Linked DNA regions of Homo sapiens: region 2 is linked to region 1. The links come from fine-mapping of genetic effects on gene expression. Tissue or cell type: whole blood. Region 1 holds a variant in brackets; the other region holds the start of a gene. All regions are shown on one strand. Distances are from middle to middle.

The links. PIP is the estimated chance that this variant, and not a neighbour inherited with it, causes the effect.
Region 2: it holds the start of HSPA6, and the variant in region 1 is fine-mapped to the expression of HSPA6 in whole blood (TOPMed, PIP above 0.99).

Annotation. Positions count from the first base shown.
Region 1 is chr1:161,555,228-161,557,987 of GRCh38, forward strand. No RefSeq gene overlaps it. Among named protein-coding and RNA genes, the nearest start is that of FCGR3A, 6.8 kb to the left of the region's middle. The variant T/C (reference allele first, on the strand shown) is at 1,647.
Region 2 is chr1:161,523,473-161,526,028 of GRCh38, forward strand. It overlaps HSPA6 (heat shock protein family A (Hsp70) member 6), which reads left to right and starts at 1,068. Exons shown (of 1, transcript NM_002155.5): 1 at 1,068-2,556. The coding sequence starts at 1,187. TRG-GCC2-1 (tRNA-Gly (anticodon GCC) 2-1) reads right to left here and starts at 445; the gene lies at 375-445. It also overlaps a transcript of FCGR2A not described here.

The DNA of each region.
Region 1 (2,760 bases):
AGTCTTCCAGAGCATTCGGGGAGCAGAGTTTTTAAGGACAACTTGGTTGGTGGAGGGGAAGCCAGTGAGCCAGGAGTGTTGATTGGTCAGGGATGAAATCACAGGAAGTTGAAGCTGTCTTCTTGTTCTGAGTCAGTTCCTGGGTGGGCACCACAAGATCAGATGAGCCAGTTTATTGATCTGGGTGTTGCCAGGTGATCCATCAAGTGCAGGGTCTGCAAAATATCTCAAGCACCGATCTTAGGATCAGTGCTTAGGAAGGGTCAGAATCTTGTAGCCTCCACCTGCATGATTCCTAAACCATAATTTCCAATCTTGTGGCTAATGTTAGTCCTACAAAGACAATCTAGTCTTCAGAAAAAAAGGAGGTCTGCCCTGGGAAAGGGCTGTTATCATCTTTGCTTTAAACCACAAACTATAAACTAAGTTTCTCCCAAAGTTAGTTCAGCCTATGCCCAAGAATGAGGAAAGACAGCTTGGAGGTTAGAAGCAAGATGGAGTCAATTAAGTTAGATCTCTCTCACTGTTTCAGACACAATTCTGCAAAGGTAGTTACAAGAGAATGGGAGTTTTTGTTTTCTTTTAAGTGAAAGATACGAGCTTGGTTATAGGTCTTTGGGAAGAAGCCAGCAGGGTGGGAGAAGTTGGATGCCTAACAGGGACGGAACACCTAGAGAAGCAAGTGTGGGTCCTGAGGAGATGGGAATGGGACATGGACAGGGAGTTGGCTGTGAACTGGATACGGATTACCTCTCGCTCTGAGCTGAAGGCAGGAGCTGAGGGGGTACATATGCAAATCCATTTTCAGATGTTGAGTGACCATCCACATCTGCTGGTCCTGATTTTCTTGGTTAAGGAGGAGTCAAAGACACTTGTCGAGAAAGAGTGGGTAACAGTTGTGGTGGGGGTTTGAGAACACCAGAGTTGAGAATGGCCATTGTGGTGCATGGGAGAAGGAGCCGACTGTTTGTATGTACAAGAATTACCAAGAATTCCAAACAGTTGTAAGGATTGCCAAGCAATGCCAAAGGTCCAGCTGAGGTGGGTCGCTGTGCATTTGTAGCTGGAGCAGTCTTCAGTGCTGATAACATTTCTCCAGTTGTACTCAGTGCCAACTGCTGTCTGATTAGCCTGCTGAAAACGGTCCTGAGCAGGAGTGGAGGGAAGTCCTACAACCTGTATTACCTCCAAAGCAGCTCAACCAGACTGAGGAAATGCTAGAATGAAGGTATGTGGGCTTTCAGTGAGCTCATCCAAGACAGGTAGTCAAGAAGGCTGTGAGAAAGGTAGGCTGGCCTGGCAGTCTTTGGTATAGTCCAGCAGTTGAATTCCAGTTACCTATTGCTGTAACTGTAGAAAAAACAAACTCAGTTCCTCCCACTATGCTCTCACAACACATTTCTGACAACAGATATGTGGGGATTTCTCTCCACTGGCAAGCAAGCAAGCAAGCAAGCAAGCAATTCAGCAGTGGGCACCAACTGGGTGTCTTCTAATCCAGTGGTCTCCAAAATTTTTGGCACCAGGGATTGGCTTCATGGAAGACAATTTTTCCTCGGACAGGGGTAGGGGGGTGGGGGATGGTTTCAGGATGATTCAAGTGCATTACATTTATTGTGCACTTCATTTCTATTATTATTACAGTG[T/C]AATATTTAATGAAGTAATTATACAACTTACCATAATGTAGAATCAGGGGGAGCCCCGAGCTTGTTTTCTTGCAACTAGACAGTCCCATCTAGGGTGATGGGAGACAATGCCAGGTCATCAGGCATTAGATTCTCATAAGGAGAATGCAACCTAGATCCCTTGCATGCGTACTTCACAATAGGGTTCATGCTCCTGTGATAATTTAATGCCACAGCTGATCTGATAGGAGGAGGAGCTCAGGCGGTGATGTGAGCCATGGGGATCTACTGTAAATACAGATAAAGCTTTGCTCCCCACCTGCCCCTCACTTCCTGCTGTGCAGCCCAGTTCCTAAGAGGTCACTGACAACTACAGGTCTGGGGATTGGGACTTCTGCTCAAATTCAATTGAATTCCAACACTATCTAACTGGAAATAGCATCAGGTGACACAAGTGAAGGGCTCAGTCTCACAAGACACTTCTGATACTCCAGGATGAAGCCCCAGGTTGTTTTACCTGTGCTTTTGACCAACCAGTTATAAATGGGGGTTCCCACCACCTGCATCTTGGGTTCAATTAATTTGCTAGAGTGGCTCTCAGTACTCAGGGAAACATTTACATTTATCAGTTTGTGATAAAGAATATTACAAAGGACACAAGTAAAGAGTACATAGGGCAAGACCTGTGGGAAGGGGCTTGGAGCTTCCATGCCCTCTGGTGCACTACCCTCCAAGAACCTCTCTGTGTTCGGCTCTCTGGAGGATCTCCAAACCCTGTCCTTTTGGGTTTTTATGGGAGCTTTATTACTTAGGAATGATTAATTAAGTCATTGGCTATTGGTGATCAATTCAACCTTCAGCCCCTCTCCACTTCCCAGAGGGAGTTTGGAGGGTGGAGCTGAAAGCCCCAATCCTCTGACCTTGCCATGATCTTTCTTGTGCCCAGCCCCTGTTATGAAGCTACCTAAGAGCTGCCAGCCATCAGTTACCTCATTAGCACACCAAAAGACATCACTTTGGAGATTCTAAGGATTTTAGGAGTTGTATGCCAGGAAAAAGGATGAAGACTGTATAAAGGACCCTTGACATAACTAACTCCATCTTAGAAAAAGACTCCATTTTATATTTCGTAGGG
Region 2 (2,556 bases), 32 kb before region 1:
ACCTGAGTCCTGGTCTCCAGCTGGGAACCCACTTAGGCCATAAAGAAAAACGCACACTGTGCCTCTCCACCGGGCCTCTGGAGACGAGGCTCCTCGGGGATACAAACAGTGGGGAGAACATGAGGGACATCCCGACCGTACTCTGCGTCCTCCTTTCCCAGGTGTTGCGTTCTCTCTTGGGCTGAGTGGCGAGGTCTCTCCCGAGTCCCAGGGCCACAGTGCAATGTCACATCTCCTTTGTGGAAAGTGACTGGTAAAGGAGAGAGAACAAAACTGGAGGAATGTAAAGTCTTCAGCCACCTGGTTTAATTTATTCAAGAGTGATTAATCCTAGATGAGAAAAAGAATTGAAATGGATCGGAAAAAAATGAAAGTGCATTGGCCGGGAATCGAACCCGGGCCTCCCGCGTGGCAGGCGAGAATTCTACCACTGAACCACCAATGCTACTGTCAGCTAAAGACCTGCAGTATTGTCTCTTAAAGCTCACTATCTCTGGCCATTCACTAAGGAACCAGGCACCGTCTTAAATCGCGGTTTGGAAAATATTTTGTTCAAGATAAAACTGTTTTAAGATATACGTGTATATATCTTATATATCTGTATTCGCATGGTAACATATCTTCGGCCTTCCTGAGCCGCTGGGCTCTCAGCGGCCCTCCAAGGCAGCCCGCAGGCCCCTGTGTGCCTCAGGGATCCGACCTCCCACAGCCCCGGGGAGACCTTGCCTCTAAAGTTGCTGCTTTTGCAGCCTCTGCCACAACCGCGCGTCCTCAGAGCCAGCCCGGAGGAGCTAGAACCTTCCCCGCATTTCTTTCAGCAGCCTGAGTCAGAGGCGGGCTGGCCTGGCGTAGCCGCCCAGCCTCGCGGCTCATGCCCCGATCTGCCCGAACCTTCTCCCGGGGTCAGCGCCGCGCCGCGCCACCCGGCTGAGTCAGCCCGGGCGGGCGAGAGGCTCTCAACTGGGCGGGAAGGTGCGGGAAGGTGCGGAAAGGTTCGCGAAAGTTCGCGGCGGCGGGGGTCGGGTGAGGCGCAAAAGGATAAAAAGCCGGTGGAAGCGGAGCTGAGCAGATCCGAGCCGGGCTGGCTGCAGAGAAACCGCAGGGAGAGCCTCACTGCTGAGCGCCCCTCGACGGCGGAGCGGCAGCAGCCTCCGTGGCCTCCAGCATCCGACAAGAAGCTTCAGCCATGCAGGCCCCACGGGAGCTCGCGGTGGGCATCGACCTGGGCACCACCTACTCGTGCGTGGGCGTGTTTCAGCAGGGCCGCGTGGAGATCCTGGCCAACGACCAGGGCAACCGCACCACGCCCAGCTACGTGGCCTTCACCGACACCGAGCGGCTGGTCGGGGACGCGGCCAAGAGCCAGGCGGCCCTGAACCCCCACAACACCGTGTTCGATGCCAAGCGGCTGATCGGGCGCAAGTTCGCGGACACCACGGTGCAGTCGGACATGAAGCACTGGCCCTTCCGGGTGGTGAGCGAGGGCGGCAAGCCCAAGGTGCGCGTATGCTACCGCGGGGAGGACAAGACGTTCTACCCCGAGGAGATCTCGTCCATGGTGCTGAGCAAGATGAAGGAGACGGCCGAGGCGTACCTGGGCCAGCCCGTGAAGCACGCAGTGATCACCGTGCCCGCCTATTTCAATGACTCGCAGCGCCAGGCCACCAAGGACGCGGGGGCCATCGCGGGGCTCAACGTGTTGCGGATCATCAATGAGCCCACGGCAGCTGCCATCGCCTATGGGCTGGACCGGCGGGGCGCGGGAGAGCGCAACGTGCTCATTTTTGACCTGGGTGGGGGCACCTTCGATGTGTCGGTTCTCTCCATTGACGCTGGTGTCTTTGAGGTGAAAGCCACTGCTGGAGATACCCACCTGGGAGGAGAGGACTTCGACAACCGGCTCGTGAACCACTTCATGGAAGAATTCCGGCGGAAGCATGGGAAGGACCTGAGCGGGAACAAGCGTGCCCTGCGCAGGCTGCGCACAGCCTGTGAGCGCGCCAAGCGCACCCTGTCCTCCAGCACCCAGGCCACCCTGGAGATAGACTCCCTGTTCGAGGGCGTGGACTTCTACACGTCCATCACTCGTGCCCGCTTTGAGGAACTGTGCTCAGACCTCTTCCGCAGCACCCTGGAGCCGGTGGAGAAGGCCCTGCGGGATGCCAAGCTGGACAAGGCCCAGATTCATGACGTCGTCCTGGTGGGGGGCTCCACACGCATCCCCAAGGTGCAGAAGTTGCTGCAGGACTTCTTCAACGGCAAGGAGCTGAACAAGAGCATCAACCCTGATGAGGCTGTGGCCTATGGGGCTGCTGTGCAGGCGGCCGTGTTGATGGGGGACAAATGTGAGAAAGTGCAGGATCTCCTGCTGCTGGATGTGGCTCCCCTGTCTCTGGGGCTGGAGACAGCAGGTGGGGTGATGACCACGCTGATCCAGAGGAACGCCACTATCCCCACCAAGCAGACCCAGACTTTCACCACCTACTCGGACAACCAGCCTGGGGTCTTCATCCAGGTGTATGAGGGTGAGAGGGCCATGACCAAGGACAACAACCT